Regions from separate parts of the Homo sapiens genome. Here regions 2, 3, 4 and 5 are each linked to region 1. The links come from fine-mapping of genetic effects on gene expression. A gene starts in region 1. Each other region holds a variant in brackets. All regions are shown on one strand. Distances are from middle to middle. Region 1 holds the start of VNN1 (vanin 1). Region 2 has its middle 19 kb from the start of VNN2. Region 3 has its middle 8.8 kb from the start of TAAR6. Region 4 holds the start of TAAR1 (trace amine associated receptor 1). Region 5 has its middle 18 kb from the start of TAAR1.

The links. PIP is the estimated chance that this variant, and not a neighbour inherited with it, causes the effect.
Region 2: its variant is the best candidate, but not a certain one, in a credible set for the expression of VNN1 in whole blood (TOPMed, PIP 0.86).
Region 3: its variant is the best candidate, but not a certain one, in a credible set for the expression of VNN1 in whole blood (INTERVAL, PIP 0.52).
Region 4: its variant is the best candidate, but not a certain one, in a credible set for the expression of VNN1 in whole blood (INTERVAL, PIP 0.74).
Region 5: its variant is the best candidate, but not a certain one, in a credible set for the expression of VNN1 in whole blood (INTERVAL, PIP 0.68).

What each region holds. Positions count from the first base shown.
Region 1 is chr6:132,711,818-132,715,940 of GRCh38, forward strand. It overlaps VNN1 (vanin 1), which reads right to left and starts at 2,238. Exons shown (of 7, transcript NM_004666.3): 1 at 2,009-2,238; 2 at 1-22. The coding sequence starts at 2,218.
Region 2 is chr6:132,736,845-132,740,967 of GRCh38, forward strand. No RefSeq gene overlaps it. Among named protein-coding and RNA genes, the nearest start is that of VNN2, 19 kb to the right of the region's middle. The variant T/A (reference allele first, on the strand shown) is at 2,212.
Region 3 is chr6:132,577,093-132,581,215 of GRCh38, forward strand. No RefSeq gene overlaps it. Among named protein-coding and RNA genes, the nearest start is that of TAAR6, 8.8 kb to the left of the region's middle. The variant C/CA (reference allele first, on the strand shown) is at 2,542.
Region 4 is chr6:132,655,711-132,659,833 of GRCh38, forward strand. It overlaps TAAR1 (trace amine associated receptor 1), which reads right to left and starts at 3,472. Exons shown (of 2, transcript NM_138327.4): 1 at 3,420-3,472. The variant CAT/C (reference allele first, on the strand shown) is at 1,673.
Region 5 is chr6:132,675,276-132,679,398 of GRCh38, forward strand. It overlaps the pseudogene HLFP1. Among named protein-coding and RNA genes, the nearest start is that of TAAR1, 18 kb to the left of the region's middle. The variant A/G (reference allele first, on the strand shown) is at 1,853.

The DNA of each region.
Region 1 (4,123 bases):
GAGTCACAATAATATGCGCACCCTGTTAAAAATGCAACTTAATCCAAAGGGGGGCCTGCAAGAGGAGCTGAGGAGCTGAGTGGCTGAGTAACAACTATTTGGGCTTCCCCCACACCCCTTAAATCTTATTTTGTTTTCTATATTTTTATAATTTATTTTCTTTTCCAAAGCATTTTAATTTCCTTTTTTTTCAGTGCACTGTCACTTCTTTTTCTTTTTCTTTTCTTTTCTTTATTTCTAATTTTAGATTCAAAGGGTACAAATGCAGGTTTGTTGCATGGATATGTTACATAATGGTGAGGTTTGGGCTTCTAGTCAAGCATTTTTTTTTCTCTCTTTTTTTTTTTTTTCAGATGGAGTTTCGCTCTGCTGCCCAGGCTGGAGTGCAATGGCTAGATCTCGGCTTACCACAATCTCCACCTCCCGGGTTCAAGCGATTCTCCCGCCTCAGCCTCATAAGTAGCTAGGATCACAGGCATCTGCCACCACGCCTGGCTAATTTTTGTATTTTTAGTAGAGATGGGGTTTCTCCATATTGGTCAGGATGGTCTTGAACTCCCAACCTCAGGTGATCCGCCTGCTTCAGCCTCCCAAAGTGTTGGAATTACAGACATGAGCCACCGCACCTGGCTTAGTCAAGCATTTTAATTTTCTAATCCTGCCATTGTTGTTTCCTATGGCAGTCGTTAACTATAAACCTAGCTTATCCTGGAACCAAGCCTCTCCTTGAACTTTCGCTGATGACTGTGCCTGTGTCAAGACTGATTAATAACTTAAATATTCTGTTTATTTCCTCCTCTGCCCTAGCTTTCCCCTGCAAACATGATTCCTGCTTCTCAGAAAAAGAGGAGCCACAAACTGGTTACTTGAACTGTCCCATGCCTACAAGTACTGCCTGAGCTAACCTGGGCACCTTCCAATTAGAGAGTCACCTTAAAAAGCTCTGTGACCTTCAAGGAAATAGTTGGACTAAGGATGAAAAAGAACATCAGAACTCCTGATAACCTTTTAAATATTAGTATATATAAGAATATAGGGCAGTCACGGTAGCTCATGCCTGTAATCCCAGCACTTTGGGAGCCCAAGGCAGGTGGATCACCTGAGGTCAGGAGTTCAAGTACAGCGTGGGCAACATGGCAAAATCCCATCTCTACAAAAAATACAAAACTTAGCTGGGCACGGTGGCATGCATCTGTGGTCCCAGCTACTCTGGAGACTGTAGTGGGAGAATCACCTGAGCCCGGGAAGTCAAGGCTGCAGTGAGACGTGATCACACCACTATACTCCATCCTGGGTGACAGAGTGAGACCTTAACTCAACAACACAAAAGAATATATATTTATAGATATATGTAATACACATTTATCCATGACTTTTATCACACTTCATGTATTCCTGGTCTACACCTAATCGATCAATAGCTTTTAAAATAATATTTGTGTAAACCACAATTTATACTGTATGATTAACTTCAAACTGAAACCTTCACTAAACTTAAGGACTCACAATGCATTACATATACTTTTATCTTGTAATTAGAATGAAGTGTGAAGTATATAATGCATGCTGGCAAGGAATTGAAAACTTAAATTTGTTTTCAGATTATAAATTTATTCGAAAACCTGCAAAGCCTTAATAGCACATGAGTACATGAAGGCCACTAATACTCTGAAAATAGCACCTAGTCCCTGACCCATTTATCCTCCATCCTCCATCTGTACCAGAAAAGGGGAACAAAGATGTTGAATTTATGGCCAGTTCCTCAAAGGTCTGCTGCTTCTTGATAATGAGCAAATTGTTCTTTTCTTAACTTTGTTCTTACTTTTAGGGAAGTCCTTGCTCTAATTTTGAGAGGAAAGTAGAATTCTAACTGTAAAATAAAGGTTCTTGGCTACTCTGATACATATATCATCTAAAAGTGTAACTGACCCTGACAGTGGCCCTGTCTCCTAGGACCCCCTCCTTTCTCATAGAATCCAGTACACTGGAGAGATGGTAGAGATGGTACCTGATCTGCTGCTGATGTGATCGCTCCTTCCAAAATGTCCAGATTCCGATTCATTAATGCCAAAGCCTCCTCACGAGACACTGGTGTTAGGGTGGCATTGGGCAATATCGCTGCATGCTCATAAACAGCTGCAGTGAAAGTGTCCTGGCAGCTGGCTCTTGAGACATAGAAAAGCAAAATTGCCACGTAAGCTGGCAACTGAGTAGTCATGCTGAAGTCCAATGAGTGCTGAAAAACAGAGCATGTCCTGGTATTTATAGAAAGAAGACACGTGGTGTCCAGAACTTAGTACCTTAAACTACGGAAGTTAATTAAGAAAACGCTATGATTTCATAGCATTGTTACATAACAAAAGACCCTACCTTATTGCAGTAATTTGTGAAGATTAACTCAAGAACTCTATGTACATTAGTTCGCTAGGGCTGCCTAACAAAATACAATAAACTGGGTGGTGTAAAAAATAAAAAATTTATTGCTTTGCAGTTCTGGAGGGTGGGAGTCCCAGATGAAGGTGTCAGCAGAGTTGGTTCCTCCTGAGGGCGGTGAAGGAAAGATGTGTTCCAGGCCTCTCTCCTTGACCCATAGATGGCTGCCTTCTCCCTGTGTCTCTTCATATGCTATTCTCCCCATGTGTGTGCCTGTATCCAAGTTTTCCCTTTTTGTGAGGACACCACTCTAATCTTTAACACAGGGAAAGGGAAAATCCCAGCTCTAGCTTTTTTTGTCATCGTTGTTGTTTGTTTATTGTTGTTGTTGTTTGAGATGGAGTTTCACTCTTGTCACCCAGGCTAGAGTGCAGTGGCGAAATCTCGGCTCACTGCAACCTCCGCCTCTCGGGTTCATGTGATTCTCCTGCCTCAGCCTCCCAAGTAGCTGGGATTACAGGCGCCCGCCACCACGCCAGGCTAATTTTTTGTATTTTTAGTAGAGATAGGGTTTCGCCGTGTTGGGCAGGCTGGTCTCAAATTGCTGACCTCAGGTGATCCACCTGCTTTGTTTTTATGCCAAATAAGGGCAGAAGAAAAAAGCCAACTGAAGGTCATAAACCCAGGGGTACAGGCTCACTGAAAGACTGAGACTCAATCATAGGACCAATTCGATTTAGTGCCCACTGTACTCCAGTATAACTTCATCTTAACTAATTAGATCTGAAATGACCCCTTTTCCAAAAAAGTTACATTCTAAGATACTGACAGTTAGGACTTCAACATATAAATTTTTGGAATTCATATATTTTGGAATGTCAACACAAGACATTCAAATAATTTTAAAACTTTATTATTATTTTCATGTGAATATTTCAGCTCTACACTTTGATTTACTTTATTTTCCTCAAAATGGGGAAGCCAGGACAAAGAGGAATACAAAAGAGTTACTCATTTTCTATTGCTATATAACAAATTATCCCCAAATTCAGCAGCTTCAAAAAGCAAAAATACATCATCTCCCACTTTCTCTGGGTCAGGAATCCAGGGGCAGTTTAGCTGGTGCCTCTGGCCCAAGGTCTCTTTCACAAGGCTGCAGTCAAGCAGCTGCCAGGGCTAGCTATATCAAGGCTTGACTCCAGGAGGATTCACTTCCGAGCTCCAAGCTCCCTCATGTGGCTGACGGCAGGGATCAAGACCTCATTGGTTGTTGCCCAGAGACATGAGTTCCTAGTGATGCAAACCTCACCATAGGGCAGCCCGCATTATGGTATCTGGATTCCCTTAGAGCCAGACAGCAAGTGAACCCACTGGAGATGGAAGCCACGGATGCTTCGTAATGTAATTGGGGAAGCAACACCTCATCGCTTTTGTTGTATTCTATCCAATAAAGCATTAGGAACCATCTTTGAAGCTGCTTATCACAGAGGCAACAGAGGTGTATAAAGAATCAGAGCAAAAAAAAGAAAAAATGAGCTGGGGAGCGAGATCCAGAGAGAGGAGAGGGAAATTATATAAAATAGAAAAACTGTTCATAGATTTTGATATTGAGTAAGCTGGCAAATTTTGTTTCAGTTGTGCATTAAGTATAATATTTACAGAATTAGTGTTTATGTTTTTCCATTTTATTTTTAGATCTATTTGTCTTTGAATGGTATTTTTATAGTTCAATCTGCAAACAGGCATATCT
Region 2 (4,123 bases), 25 kb after region 1:
ATTAGAGTTCCCTTGACCATTGCTGTCATTAATTAAGATACTTCCCATGCATATATTGAATCAAAGCAGACAGTAAGAGCCTTCTTTCTCTTGGTTCCATTTTATATTTTGTGTTCTTAGCTAAAAGTACTCTTCTTATTGTAACATGATCACTGTTGCTCTGATCCTGGAATGATTCTGACCAAATCCTGCCTTTCGAGCTCAAATCCATTGCCTCTCCAGTCTTGTTGCTATTCCCTTCTCTAAACTCTTAATGCACTTATGGCCAGTAGCCACATTGTTGTTCACTGTCTTTCAGTCCCTTACTCTACCCTCTCCCCTGGCCCCAGGTTTTTTTCTACTTCATACCTTCAACTATCTTCTACAAAAGGATAATGACTGTGTCTCTATCTTTAGCTCAAACTTCCGTTCTGAACTTCAGGCCTATTTATCCAACTCAAAAGAACTCCTTTCCACAAGCTCCCACCAAGTATCAACCCACCTGCCAGCCATTTGTACCTGTAAATTCTGCCTCCCCCCATCCTTACTGTAAATGACTCCTCTTGACCCTACTTAAGTCTAGCCCCTATCTTTGAGCACTGGATCCCAAGGACATTGCTCTAGAAGTTCTTCTCTCTTACTTTGTTTATTTTTTTGTTTGTTTGTTTTTGAGACAGGGTCTCACTCTGCCACCCAGGCTGGAGTGTAGTGGTATAATCTTGGCTCACTGCAACCTCCACTTCCCAGGTTCAAAAGATCCTCCTGCCTCAGCCTCCCAAGTATCTGGGATTACAGGCATCTGCCCCCCACACCTGGCTAATTTTTGTATTTTTAGCAGAGATGGAGTTTTATCATGTTGGCCAGGGTGGTCTCAAACTCCTGGCCTCAAGTGATCTGCTCACCTCGGCCTCTCAAAGTGCTGGGATTATAGGCGTGAACCACCAATGCTCGGCCTTTTTTTTTTTTTTTTTGAGATGGAATCTTGCTCCATCACCCAGGCTGGAGTGCAGTGGCCCAATCTTGGCTCACTGCAACCTCCGTCTCCCAGGTTCAAGCAATTCTCCTCCCTCAGCCTCCCGAGTAGCTGGGCTTTCAGGCGCACATCACCATGCCTGGCTGATTTTTGTATTTTCAGTAGAAACAGGGTTTCACCATGTTAGCCAGTCTAGTGTAGAACTCCTGACCTCAAGTGATCCACCCACCTCGGCCTCCCAAAGTGCTGGGATTATAGGCATGAGCCACCGTGCCCAGCCCCATTACTGTTTATCATCAATTTTTCTTTCTCTATTGGATACAATAAAGAAAACACAAATATCCTATTATATATTCTACAACTATCCTGTAACATTTTCTATCTTAAAAAAAAAAGCCTTTTGATCTGACATCCCCTTCCAATTCCTGCTCCATTTCTCAGCTTTATTTTATAACAAAATTCCTTTCCACGATGGTATGTACTCCTTGCCTCAATTCCTGTCCTCCCAATGGACAGGATTTTACCCCCATGACTTCACTGCCTTGTCCAGTTCCCATTAATCTCCCTATTACTAAGTCTGATGGTCAATTCTCAATGTCATCTTACTCAATGTCTTGGTAGTACTTGACAAAGCTGCCATTATCCCATTCTTAATGTACTTTCTTCTTCACACCCTTTTAGTTTTCCTCTTTCTTTCTTCTTAGTTTTTGTATTTGTTTACTTTGTTTTGTTTCTTTGGACTTTTTCTTCTGGTTTCTACTCATCATCCCTGACTTGGCAACACTGGTGCACCCTGGAGCCCAACCTTTGGAAGTCTTCTGTTCCTATCTACACTCACTTCCTAGGTGATTACATCCATTTCATCTCTTTAAATACCATCTATATATTTAATATTAGTGACTCACAGATTTATATATCTACCTCAAACCTCTCTTGAGAACTCTAGACTCTTATATCTGGCAACAGTCTACTCAAAATCTCCACTTGACTGTATGAAGGCTTATCTGATCAACATGAACAAAACTGAGCTCCTGACCTTCTGCTCCTGATGCTCTTTCACCAGCAGTCTTTCAGATCTCAATTAACGGCTTCTCTCATCTCCCTTTTGTTCCGGCCAAAACCCTTGGAGTCACCCTTACTTCTTTCTGTCTCTCTCACTCTACACACGTTCAAGCAAGTGGTCTTTTACTACACCAACTGTGGTCCAAGCCGTCATTATCACTAGTCTGGATTATTCCCAAACCCTTGCACCTGGTTTT[T/A]GTACCACTACTTCTACTTTTGCACAACAACAATCAGAGCCATTCTATCAAAATATAAGACTAATCATATCATTCCTCTGCTCAAAACCTATCAATGGCCTGGGTGCAGTGACTCACACCTGTAATCCCAGCACTTTGGGAAGCCAAGGCGGTCAGATCACCTGAGGTCAGGAGTTTGAGACCAGCCTGACCAACATGGAGAAACCCCGTCTCTACTAAAAATACAAAATTGGCTGAGCACAGTGGCATGCACCTGTAATCCCAGCTACTCAGGAGGCTGAGGCAGGAGAATCACTTGAACCCGGGAGACAGAGGTTGCAGTGAGCCAAGATTGCACCATTGCACTCCAGCCTGGGCAACAAGAGTGAAACTCCATCTCAAAAAACAAACAAACAAATAAACAAACAAAAAAACCTATCAGTGGCATTCGATTTTACTCAGAGTAAAAGGCCAAGTTCTTACAATGCCTAAAAAAACCACTATAAGCTGTCACTTCTAACAATTCCTACTACTTTTCCCATGTTCACTCGGCTCCAGTTGCATTGACTTCTTTGCTGTTCCTCAAGCATGTCCCTGTACTGTCTCCACTACCCTGAGGGGACTGCTGCAACTGGCTCCTTCCTGGCCACTCTGCCTTTAGAACTTCTTTCTCCACTCCATCCTTCAAAAAGCCATCAAATTTATCTAGTTTTTAAACTGTTTAGTCCCTCATGGCTACTTGACTCTAAAACTCTTCAATGTGTCTTTCTCTCAGCTTCTGGATAAAGTCTAGACTTCATTTGTGTTTCAACACTGACTCTGGACTATCTCTCTAGTCTTATTTTTTACATCGTCTGTCCTTATCCTTCCTCCTTGCATCCTCTTCCTCCGTAATACATTAAACACTGCTTGAAGCATACTTCCATGTCTTTGCATGCATGACTAACTCTATTGAGAATGCCCTGATTATCTTATTCTGCTTGTCTGTGACATCCTTCTGGTCTTCCAAGGTAGAATTGATCCATTTCTGGTCCTTGTATTGATCATAGCACTAGCACGCCTCAGCCTCCAAAGTGCTGGGATTACACGCATGAGCCACCATGCCCAGCTAAGTTTTTTTTTTTTTTTATGTGATTGTTAGCTGCATAAATGTCTTCTTTCGAGAAGTGTCTGTTCATGCCCTTTGCCCACTTTTTAATGGGGTTGTTTGTTTTTTTTCTTGTGGAAAAGAAGTTCCTTGTAGATTCTGGATATTGGGCCTTTGTCAGGTGGATAGATTGCAAAATTTTTGTTTAAGTTCCTTGTAGATTCTTGGATATTGAATCTTTGTCAGAAGGATAGATTGCAAAAATTTTCTCCCTTTCTGTAGTTTGTCTGTTCACTCTGATGATAGTTTCATTTGCTGTGCAGAAGCTCTTCAGTTTAATTAGATTCCACTTGTCATTTTTTGCTTTTGTTGCAATTGCTTTTGGTGTTTTTGTCATGAAATCTTTGTTTGTGCCTATGTCCTGAATGATATTGTCTAGATTTTCTTCTAAGGTTTTTATAGTTTTGGGTTTTACATCTAAGTCGTTAATCCATCTTCAGTTAATTTTTGTATAAGGTGTAAGGAAGGGGTCCAGTTTCCATTTTCTGCCTGTGGCTAGCCAGTTTTCCCAGCACCATTTATTAAATAGGGAATACTTTCCCCATTGCTTGTTTTTGTCCAGTTTGTCAAAGATCAGATGGTAGTAGATGTGCAGTATTTTTAAAATTAATTTCTGAAATGCAAAATGAAACAGAACAGGGAAGCAAAGGTTTATAACATAACTGATCAAAGCTTTTAGCAGGGTTGTTCAATCCATATTCAAACAATATAAGATGTCACAGAATTCTTGAAGACAGGTAAATTGAAATTAGTCAGTTCACTCTCATTATTTTTCTCCTTTGACTT
Region 3 (4,123 bases), 130 kb before region 1:
ACATGTAAAGGCATATTTTTTAATTTTACATTTCAAGGTACATGTGCAGGATGTGCAGGTTTGTTACATAGGTAAACATGTGCCATGGTGGTTTGCTGCACCTATCAACCCATCACCTAGGTATTAAGCCCAGCATGCATTAGCTATTTTCCCTAATGCTCTCTGCCCCCACCCTACCCTCTTTCAACAGGCCCCAGTGTGTGATGCTCCCTTCCTTGTGTCCTTGTATTCTCATTGTTCAGCTCCTACTGAAGAATCAATATCATGAAAATGGCCATATTGCCCAAAGCAATTTATAGATTCAATGCTATTCCCATTAAACTACCATTGACATTCTTCACAGAATTAGAAAAAAAAGATTTCAAAATTCATATGGAACTTAAAAAAAGCTCGTATAGCCAGGCCAATCCTAAGCAAAAAGAACAAAACAAAAGAGGCACCAAGCGACCCAACTTCAAACTATACTACAAGGCTACAGTAACCAAAACAGCATGGTACTGGTACAAAACCGGCACATAGACCAATGGAACAGAATAGAGAACTCAGAAATGAAAACATACATCTAGAATCATCTGGTCTTCAACAAACTTGACAAAAAAACAAGATATTGGGAAAGTATTCCCCATTTAATAAATGGTGCTGGAAGAACTGGCTAGCCATATGCAAAAAAATTGAAACTGGGCCCCTTCCTTACATCCTATACAAGAATTAACTCAAGACAGATTAAAGACTTAAATGCAAGAACAATTAATATTTCACTAGTAGGGCTGCCCTCTACCAGATGGCTAATGGAGTCACGATGCAGAGCTATGAGATGGAGGGCAGGGGATGCTATGGCTAATTTTAACCACAGCAGCAAACACAGAAAAACCCACTAGGTCGTATAGACTCCTGACCAGCCCCAGCATCAGATCTTGGTCACTGTGGGCTATGGTGAATTCATAATTCAAAACCCAAAGCCTAATTTCTGTTGTGTTTGGAATAAAATTCTAACTCTGTGATTCTGATCTATGAGGCTTTGCATAGTCTTAGCCCCGCACAACTCTCTACCCACTACCTATTCTGCTCTCCCTTTACTTGTTATGCTCCAAATATATTTGTCCAATCCCAGCCCCTCGGCTACCCCCCACAGGATGCCTCAGGAGCTGTGCACTGGCTATCCCATCTGTTGTACTAGGTCGCTCAGGAGACTCGCACAGGGTTTTTCATCTGTTGGATCACTCAGTCCTCAGATCTTCACGGAGCTGGTTCCTTACACAGGTCTCAGCTTTAACATCGCTCCCTCAGAAAAATCAAGATCTCGGCTAATGTTGTTATCCATGTTTTATTCTTTTACTCACCTTGTTTTTATATCATTTCCTTCATGGTACATATCAGAATGTGTTACAATCTTATTCATCTGTTTATTTTCTTGTGTTTTAACTGTCTGTCTCTTAATGACATGTAAGCTGCAGGAGGTCAGATACTTGCTGAAGTATCACTATGAGTAAATCAGACAGTTTGTACTGGTGTTTTATTTCTTTGCTCCTATGTTGTTGTTTTACTTTGGTCAGTTGAGTAAATAAATGAGTGAATAAATAAAATAGAAATAGATTCCCCAGCATTGGGAGGATACATTAAATGTATTCTTTTTTTTTTTTTTAAAGTTCTGGGGTACATGTGCTGGATGTGCAGTTTTCTTACATAGGTAAATGTGTGCCATGGTGGTTTGCTGCACCTATCAACTCATTACCTAGTTATTAAGCCTGGAAAAATGCATTCTTTTTATAAGCTTTTTTGGGGAGGGGCAGGGTCTTGCTGTGACCTAGGCTGGGGTACAGTGGCATGATCATAGCTCAATGCAGTCTCAAACTCCTGGGCTCAGGTGACACTCCCATGTAGCTGGGGCTACAGGCGTGTGCGACCATGCCTGGCTAATTTTTAAAAAAAATTTATTTTTGTAGAAAAGGGATCTCATTTTGTTGCCCAGGTTGGTCTCAAACACGACTTCAAGCAATACTCCCATTTTGGCCTCCTGAAGTGCTGGGACTACAGATTTGAGCCACTGTGCCCAGCCTTAGATGCATTTTTAAAAGAATAAAATAGCTAGGTTGGCCTTATCTGAAGACTTGTTGAATGTGCCACTAAATCTCTTAACATCTAGTGTTCAGCAAGCCTTTTCATTCTTAGAACTCAATCAATAAAACTCAATCATAGAAAACTATTTCAAAGGACTCACTCTATGAAATAAAAAAAATCTTCCTAAAGAGTTTATGGGGGCTGGGCATGGTGGCTCACACCTGTAAAATCCCAGCATTTTGGGAGGCTAAGGCAGGTGGATCACTTGAGGCCAAGAGTTAGAGACCAGCCTGGCCAATAATAGTTAAACCCCATCTCTACTAAAAATGCAAAAAAATTAGCCTGGCATGGTGGTGCACACCTGTAATCCTAGCTACTTGGGAAGCTGAGGCACAAGAGTCGTTTAAACCCTGAAGGCTGAGGTTGCAGTGAGCTGCAATCACGCCACTGCACTCCAGCCTGGGTGACAAAGCAAGACTGTCT[C/CA]AAAAAAAAAAAAAAAAAGTTTATTGGAAAATATTTGATACCTGAGATCTGAACCATTCATGAGTTTCATGTTACTATTAAACATATCTTTGCTTGCTAATCATTTTCAGAGAAACCTCTAAGCTATTTTCCAGCTTGCACTCTTTCTGAAGCCTACACATTTCAAGCAGCATGGCCCCGAGCAGTGTTGGTAAGAGGCAGACTGGGATTTGGAGCCAGCTCTGTTAACTATAAAGGTCCTACTTTCACCTACTGTGTAATCCTCCTTCAAAGCAAGATTGAGGTGACGGAAATTGTGCTGGCCAAACATTAGGTTTCTGGGTTCTAGGTCCTGTCTCTGCCAATCATAGTTTGTGGGACTTCAGACAAGTCAGTTTATCTTATTGGACCTTAATGTGAAATAATGTAACTCCAATCCATGGCCACTAAAGTTCCTTCCAGTCCTAGAATTTCTAATACAAGCACATGTGAGTAACATAGCAGGGCTTTCTCTGTGTACCCACAGTGGAGTTTGGTGTGCTAAGGCTAGCTCTCAGAAGCCGATTTTGATGATAACCCAAGTTACTTGAGAGATGGTCAAGCCAACACTGGGACTGGAATTCACAGATTTGATCATGGGGTTAGATGGAAACCATCAAAAACAACAAAAAGAGAAAAAATTACCCCAAGCACTGTGAGGGGCAGCAGTATTGGAAAATGAGCTCCAAGCAGGCAAGGAATTCACCTGAAAGCATGAATGAAAGACAGGTCTGGAATGCACCAAATGACTAGGATCAGGAGTGTCTGTAAGTGTCAGAATGTAGCAGAGAGTGGCATTGTACAGAGTTCTACCCCGAGACTTTCATACACAAACTTTCAAATGCCATGCTACATTTACCATCAAAAGACCATCAGTTAGGAAGCAGATGATCTAAGTTTGCCTGACTGAGTTGCCACATATTGCAGGAGAGTCACCTGGAGTACAAAGTGGAGCAGTTTGAAAACTTGGGGAGAGAAAGAGAGTAGTGAGGACTGTGGTGGAACTCAGTGTCAGAGGCCAGGGTAACCAGCACCATGGTAGCAGCAGAACATGAACTACCTGGGACTCACAGAAAAGAGTAGTGCTGAGACCTGGGGAGTTTTCTTTCTCCTAATGTCTTTTTCCTGAAATAAAAGAACACACAGAAATAGGGCTTGGATTGAGTTGCGGAAGCAACAGGTCAATGAAATAAATTCTCCTTTCCCAACGCTTAACTACATGAGGACTTGAGTCAAACCCATCTAAGCTACTGATTGTTCCTCAGGATGGTTGATGTTATCTAGAAAGCTGCCCTTAACACACCCAAGCACTGAAATGTCTCCCTGCTTGAAGTTGTGCTTTCTTTAGTGTCATTTAGTAGCTGTGCTGTGCTTTCAGGCTAAAGCCACATTTTTTCAAGCTAGTATTGAATTAGCATGTGTAACTGGAAGTCAAGAGAATTCAGTCAATTTTTAAGTCAGGAGCATGTGGGAATGTGTGGCTTTGATAGTATGGCACTCAAAGTAATTGATAGTGAAGATATAAGGTCTTGGATTAAATAGAAGGGAAGAACACCCTAGGGGC
Region 4 (4,123 bases), 56 kb before region 1:
AAGACATAAGCAAGGAGATCAATTAGGGAGCTGCTGCAACGGAAGCTGTCACCTGGTGAGAGAAGATGGTGCTTTGGAGCACAGCAATGTTTGTCAGGGTGGAGAGGAGAGATCACGTTTGGACATGTTTTGAAGAAACAGCCAGCAGGAATTGTAGATAGCCTTGATTGTCGGTTTAGAGAAAGTCATGGAGGGAAGTAACAGGGCTTTGGCTTGAGCAGCTTGAAAAACAGAGGTACTAGTTAGAGAGATGGGGAAGATGGTGACTGCAGAGGGACAAGAAGCAGGGGAAATCGAACGCTTTGCCCTTGTGAGGTTGGAGCTGTGTGAGGAAGAGCAGGCCTTTAGTGCTCAGCTGTTTGGTTCAAGTCCTGGCTGGGCCATTCACTGGTCCTGTGACCTTGAACATACTACCCAGCCTCCAGAGGCTGCAGTTTCCTCATGTGAAAAACAACCAAACAAAAAGAAAACAAAAACAAAAAAAACTATTTTCTAGAGCTCTTATGAAGCTGGAATGAGTTAATTTTTATAAAATGCTTATAATAGCATCTTGTAGATAGTGTTCATCAACAACTAAGTAAACATCCAAGAGTAATGCAAGGGAAATCAAGGTGCTGTGTCAAGAATACACATATATTTAAATTTAAATAGATGCACTCTAATGGGTCACTATAGGCAGAAGGTAAGGAAAGGGAGAAACAGAGATAAATAGGGGGAGGGAGAGACAATAAGATGAAATATATATATAGAAGTAGGATGTCAGAAGGGAATGGCATGTGTTTTATTCACTGCTGAAGCTCCAAGGCCTGAAAATATCTACAACATGTACTGAGCACAAAAGGGAATAAAGAATTGAATGAATGAACAAATGAACTGAGGAGTTCATTTTCATTTCTGTGCCTCATAGAACCTTAAAAAAAATTCATGCACATATACTTAGCCTGGTTCTGAATTCTGAGTATCAAGGAAAAAGATTGTATAAGCACCCAAATAGAAAGAACTGGTTATTTTAAAAGGAAAGAAGTTCAGGCTAGCATAGGACATCTCCTCTGTCATTTTGGAAGCCAGAAGGCAATAGAATGAGGTTAGAAATTATGAGGGAAATAGGATGACAATTCAACAATCCTATATGCAGTCAAAAGGGTGATCATATAAGAGTAAAAGAATGACAGTAACAATGTATTTATGACCACCTGCTGAGAAATTCTAGGAAATACTCTAGCAATATAAAAATTAAATCAAAACAAAAATTTATAAATAGCAAGAGATGAAAAATAAAAGCAACAACAATGATTAATATATAAAGTAAGGTTTAGTTTAAATTGAAAGGGGTTATGTTAATATGACACAATACAATGCTTGTTAAAAGAACATTCAAAATGAAAAACAAATAAATTTCAAGGAAACACTTAACATTGGCCTGAAACTTAAATTCTAACTATCTTAATAACACCTAGTTGTTATCAGGGGTGCTGAGGGGCTGGCAAGTTAAACTTCTTGACTGGATGGAAAGATGCGTAGTTATAATTAAATTTTGGACAGTTGGTCTAGCAGCATTTTTTTAAAATTTAAAATGCTCACATTGTTTGAATCAGCTCCGTTCAGTGCAATTGTTTTTGTAATAGCAACGAAAGAAAAAAGTAAAATAATCTAAACTTTGATGTCAGACTTA[CAT/C]ATATATATATATATATCAGTAGACATATGATATGTATTTAACAAGATGTTAAATAAAATGATCTGGTTCTTTCTATATAGAGACAGAAAGTTGTCAATAGTATATTTTTAAGTAAAGAAAAAACATTTACAGGTTATTTAAAAATATACAATTATGTATTCTAAAATATCATATGTCAATATATTGTTAAGTAGAAAACATTTGCAGAGTATTTAAAAATATCATAAATAGGGATACACACTCACATGCATTTATGTAATTATGGGAAATAAGTATGGAATGGAATACTCCAATTCTCAATATTGTTTACTCAGAGATAGTGAGATTGAAACTCAAAAAACACACAAAAAGATTAACAACAAAAAGAAAATAACACAAAATTTTAGCAACGTTTTTACCTGGGTGGTGAATTATGGGTGAATTTTATTTACTTTTCCATCTCTATGACATATTCTAAGTTTCTTTCTATGGGACTGTTTCACTTTCATAACTAGAAATTTTTTTAATAAAAGTAAATGTATTGTTTATAAATTGAGTTTCATTTTAAAAAACTATTGGTGAATAATTATCAATAAATTTGTATTATTTGTTTCTTTGACTTGTATAATTCTTTGCATGATTTATTTATCTATTTTACCTTTGTACTAAAATTATACTTTTACTAAATTACTGAACTGAACTCATTTCCTGTTTTTGTTCTATTATAAAATGTAAAATAGACAATAATAATTTTACTCCAAAACTATACTTGTAGCTCTGTAATTCCAGTATTTTTAATAAACATACTAAAATATGTTTGAAAAATACTTATTTCTAAAGGGGGAAAGAGACCAGGGTGAGGGGAAACAGCATTTTTAAATGTTTAAGTCATGGTTCTTGAGATGAAACATTGCTGGAAGTGAACCATTTCTGTTTCAAAGAAACAGGAAATGGGACGAAATTCATTTGTTTGCTCCTACATCAACACAAACCAACAAATAAGAGTAAAACAGTCACCAGCAATATTATGATAAATGTACTATACATGAAAGTGTTTCTGCTATTTTGACATGCATAAAGTAATATGAATCAGATTTAGGTAATGTAACTAAAAGGTTCTTAAGTTAATTGATCTAATATATGGCAGGTATACACACACACTGAATTTAGTTTAAGTTGAAAGGGATTATGTTAATATGACACAATACATTTGAAAATGTACTGGGATTTTTCCTACCAAATATATTTGCACAAATAATATCTGTGCAAATAAGATTATGGTTTTGCAGTTTAGTTGTGTATATAGTAACAATAAGACATATTGTAATTGTAAAACCTAAAAAAATCTATAAGGACTCCTTACATGATGTTAAAACTAGCCAATGTACACAGCATAGAATTTCTTTCTTCATTAACAAGAAAAGGAGATTTTTTAAAAGTTTCAACTTTTCAAATGTCCTAGCTTTCCATAAATGAATTTTTAATAAAAGAGAAACAACACTTTTTAAAAGACATGTAAAGCAAGCTATTTAAAAATATATAACCATTCTTTTAGCTTCTCTTGCTAAAGGGGCTACTAAGCAACTAAATTACAGAAAACCCTTGTTAATCTTCGCACTAAATAATCCTAAATTTTAACAGATGGATAAGTACCAAGCCATTGATAAATCTCATTATCTTTAGCATTCTTCCTGTAAAATACTACTTTAGGCCTTTGGGTTAGTCTCTAGGATTTGGTTTGGCTGTTCAGCAAATTCAGACCCACCTGCTCAGGTAAGAGTGAACACAGTCAGCGGATGAGCAGACAGCAGGAACACTGCCTTTGGGACCAGTCTGCATCAATCTCCTGGATACCTGCTGCTGGCTAGAGCCCACTGCTGCTCTATGATAGGCCACAGTTCACATAGACAGAATGACGCAAATATTAAAATCCAAAACAAAAGCTGATAATAAATCTTTCTGAAACAAGCTAACAATATGTTATCAAGAAATATAACTGGGAGGAGCTTTTATTCTGAACCAGCATCAGGAAGCTAGCAGTGAGCAAGCTAAATAGAGAAGGTAAATATTACAACTACTTTAAAAATAATTCCAAGCGTGGGCCACCAGGAACCACAGCGATGCATTAACAGCACATAAATGAAAACACATGTCCATTAAAACTGACTTAATTGCTGATTGATTTGAAAGAAAAGTACTTCTCTATTACACACCTGTACAAAGAAAATAACTAGCATTTAAAAAACAACTTGCTTTCAAAAGAGATGACCTGTACCCAACAAATGAATATTTTTAAAAAATAGAATGTACTCAAACCCAATAACATATTATAGTTAGAAAATACTTTAAAGCAATGGCTTTCAAACTACTTTTGAACCACAACTATAGGAAGAAATACATTTTATATTCTTGTTCAGTACATATGTAGGTAGGCACCCATAACAAATGTAAAAGTTTTCATTAAAAAAT
Region 5 (4,123 bases), 37 kb before region 1:
ACCAAACACAGTGTCCTGTTGATCCTGCAATTATTGAAGTTTTAGTGGGGTACGAGCCAGAGCAGAGAAATCTTCCTCTCTCTAGCATCTGTGCCCCCAAAATGAATGACTCTAGTAAGCCCAAATTCTCTAAGTTTAAATTGAAACCACAGTCCAGGATTAGGAAAGCTCTAAAATCTTCATGCCTGGCTATGGATATTTGACAAATACAGTTGACTCTTGAATAATGTGGGTGTTAGGGGTGCCCATCTGCCATACGGTGAAAAATCCAAATGTAATTTTTGACTCCTCCCAGATTTAACTACGAATAGCCTACTGTTGACCAGAAGCCTTACCAATAACATAAGTGATTAACACATATTGTATATGTATTATGTATTATTTGCTGTATTCTTACAATAAAGTTTTAAAAATGGTATTAAGAAACCCATAGAAAATAGAAAATACAATTATCTGTCTGAAATAGGGGCACCTGCAGCTGTAGACCACAATCTATGGTCCATATCAGGCAATTCAACTTTTTCTTGTAATGTGACTTTTCTCTGCTTCTTGGAAGCATTTCCACCATCACTAGTGGCACTTCCTGTGGGTCCCATGGTGTTATTCAAGGTTTGTGGTATTGCACTAAACACAATGAAAAATACACAAGAACCCCAAAATCACTTTTTGCTGCAATCCCCAATTTGCTGAAGAGGAACTGCTCATGCAAAGATGATTAGTGCCACAGGGCATGAAGCAGAGTCTTGCAACACTTGAGTTCACCACAGTAGCAACAGGAAGGGGCAATAAAGTTATTACAGTAGTACAATATGTAATACTACAATAAATTTTATGTGGTAATGATTTAATACTGCATCTTTACATATGTTTACATTTGTCTTCATTGCAAATGGGATTATGTGTGGTCTGTAAGTGCATGTGTATTATGATAAATTTTGACTTTATATAATAGAGTTGCATATGTTTTATGGCAATCAATGATAAATTAGTTTCTACATATATTGTATGCATTCATTACTTATCTTTTTCTTAATTTTTTCAATATTTCTAAGCTATGTGGTTTGTCCGCAGGATTTTTCAAATTGTCACAAATCTCCAAAATATTTTTCAATATATTTATTGAAAAAATCTACATATAAGTGGATGTGTGCAGTTCCAACCTGCATTGCTCAAGTGTCAACTGTACTGAGCTATGAATAGAAAAAAACAGTGTAACAGACAGATACTCCTGAGACGCCTGGAGGCTGGAGGAGAATGAGATTATCACCTGGACATCACTGTTAAGCGGAAGTCAGCCCTCTACCACAAGCCAGTTGCTTTTCCCTGTAAGAGGGCATTTTTGAAGGCTGGCTTTTGAAGGAATATATGGTCTGTTTCCTGTGTCAATAGCACCACACCCAAACAAACTTTTTTTTTTTTTTTTTAGACGGAGGCTCCCTCCGCCTCCCGGGTTCACGCCATTCTCCTGCCTCAGCCTCTCGAGTAGATGGGACTACAGGCGCCCGCCACCACGCCCGGCTAATTTTTTTATATTTTTAGTAGAGACGGGGTTTCACCGTGTTAGCCAGGATGGTCTCGATTTCCTGACCTCGTGATCCGCCCGCCTCAGCCTCCCAAAGTGTTGGGATTACAGGCTTGAGCCACTGCGCCCGGCCTCTGTCATAGCACTTTTCTAGAAGTAGAAACACAGCTGACTCACGTTTTAGTCTGCAACTGTGTCCAAATGTGGGTCCCCAAATATGCTTTGGCCTGTGTGTGTGGCCATCAGTACATGTACATCTGTGTGTGCACGTTACTCTGCCTTGCCAATTTAAGAAACTTCATATTCAGTTTTTGAAAGTGCCAGGTTTTT[A/G]TTGTATTTTGGAGAACTCTCATTAGTTCTCCTCCCCTCCCCTTTTCTTTACTCCTTCCCTCTCATCATTGTTTCACGTTAGATCTTGTTACTTTTCCATGACCTTCTCCTTGGGTTCACTAAGAACTCTGGATAAATAGTAGATCTCTGCTGGGCACGGTGGCTCACTCCTGTAATCCCAACACTTTGGGAGGCCGAGGCACGCGGATCACAAGGTCAGGAGATCGAGACCATCCTGGCCAGCATGGTGAAACCCCGTCTCTACTAAAAATACAAAAAATTAGCCAGGTGTAGTGGCACATGCCTGTAGTCCCAGCTACTCGAGAGGCTGAGGCAGGAGTCTCACTTGAACCCAGGAGGTGGAGGTTGCAGTGAGCCAAGACCATGCCATTGCACTCCAGCCTCGGAGACAGAGCGAGACTCCGTCTCAAAAAAAAAAAAAAAAAAAAAAAAAAAGAAGAAAAAATAGATCTCAATTTTGAAGGGTACAAGCTTTTGTTTATGTTTAATCTACAAGTTGCCATGATAAAAATGGTATACACAGTAACAGCACTATAATGCAGCACTATTAATTTATAGGTGCTTTCCTCATATTTTAAGATTGGTTTATCATTATCATCATATTTGAAGTGCTACAGATATTTAGATTTACTAGGTCCCATATTTACATAGCATTTTTATCTACTAGGTTTCATTTAAATTACATGAACCCCAAATAGGTAAGAATATTATTAGAACATAGATTTGTTTTTGCATTTTCTGTACTTAAAACAATAATTCCATTGCACACTAGAGCATGCTGCCTAAGTATTATTGTAAGTGTAGGATACTCTCCTCATCTAAGAATTTTACTCTCTTTTCAAAAACCAAAATTATGGTGAAAGGTAGGGGTCCAGTTTCATTCTTCTGCATATGGCTAGCCAGTTATCCCAGCACCATTTACTGAATGGAGAGTCCTTTCCCTATTGCTTATTTTTGTCTACTTGGTAAAAAATCATATGGTTGTAGGTGTGTGTATTACACTGTTCTTGCATTACTATAAAGAAATGCCAGAGACTGGGTAATTTATATGAAAAGAGGTTTTATTGGCTCATGGTTCTGCAGACTGTGCAGGAAGCACAGTGCCAGCATCTGCTTCTGGGGAGGCCTCAGGAAGCTTTTACTCATGGCAGAAGACGAAGAAAGAGCAGGTGCTTCACATGGCAAAAGCAGGAGCGAGGGAGAGTAGGGGGACTGTCACACACTTTTAAATGACCACATCTTGTGAGAACTCATTATTGCCAAGCAGCACCAAGCTGTGAAAGCCGCATCCCCATGACCCAGATGCCTCCCACCAGACCCCCACCTCCAGCATCGGGTATTACAATTCAACATGAGATTTGGGTGGGGACAAATATACAAACTATATCAGTGTGAAGCTTTATTTCTGAGTTCTCTATTCTGTTCCATTGGTCTGTGTGTCTGTTTTTGTATCAGTACCATGATGTTTTGGTTACTGTGGACTTACTGTAGTTTGAAGTTGGATAATGTGATGCCGCTGCCTTTGTTTTTGTTTATTTGTTTGTTTGTTTTGTTTTTTGCTTATGATTGCTTTGGCTCTTGGGATTCTTTTCTGGTTCATATGAATTTTAAAATAATTTTTCTAATTCTGTGAAAAATGACTTTGGTAGTTTGGTAGGAATAGTGCTAATCTGTAGATTGTTTTGATAAGATGGATTAAAGATTTAAACATAAGACCTGGGAACTACAAGAATCTAGATGAAAATGTAGGAAATGCCATTCTAGGCATCAGCCTTAGGAAAGAATTTATGGCTAAGACCTCAAAAGCAATTGCGACAAAAAAGAAAACTGACAAGTGGAACCTAATTAAACTAATGAGCTTTTGCACAGCAAAAGAAACTATCAACAGAGTAAACAGACAACCTACAGAATGGGAAACAACACTTGCAAACTGCATCTGACCAAAGGTCTAATAAAGGCTTATATCCAGGATGTATAAGGAACTTGAATCAACAAGAAAAAAAAACTCCATTAAAACTGGGCAAAGGACATGAACAGATACTTCTCAAAAGAAGACATCCAAGCAGCCAAGAAAGATATGAATAAATGCTCAACATCACTCATTATCAGAGAAATGCAAATCAAAACCACAATGAGATACAATCTCATACCAGTCAGAATAGCTATTATTTAAAAAGTCAAAAATAACAGCTGCTGGTGGGGCTGTGGAGAAAAGGGAACACTGTACTGTTGGTGTGGGAATGTAAATTA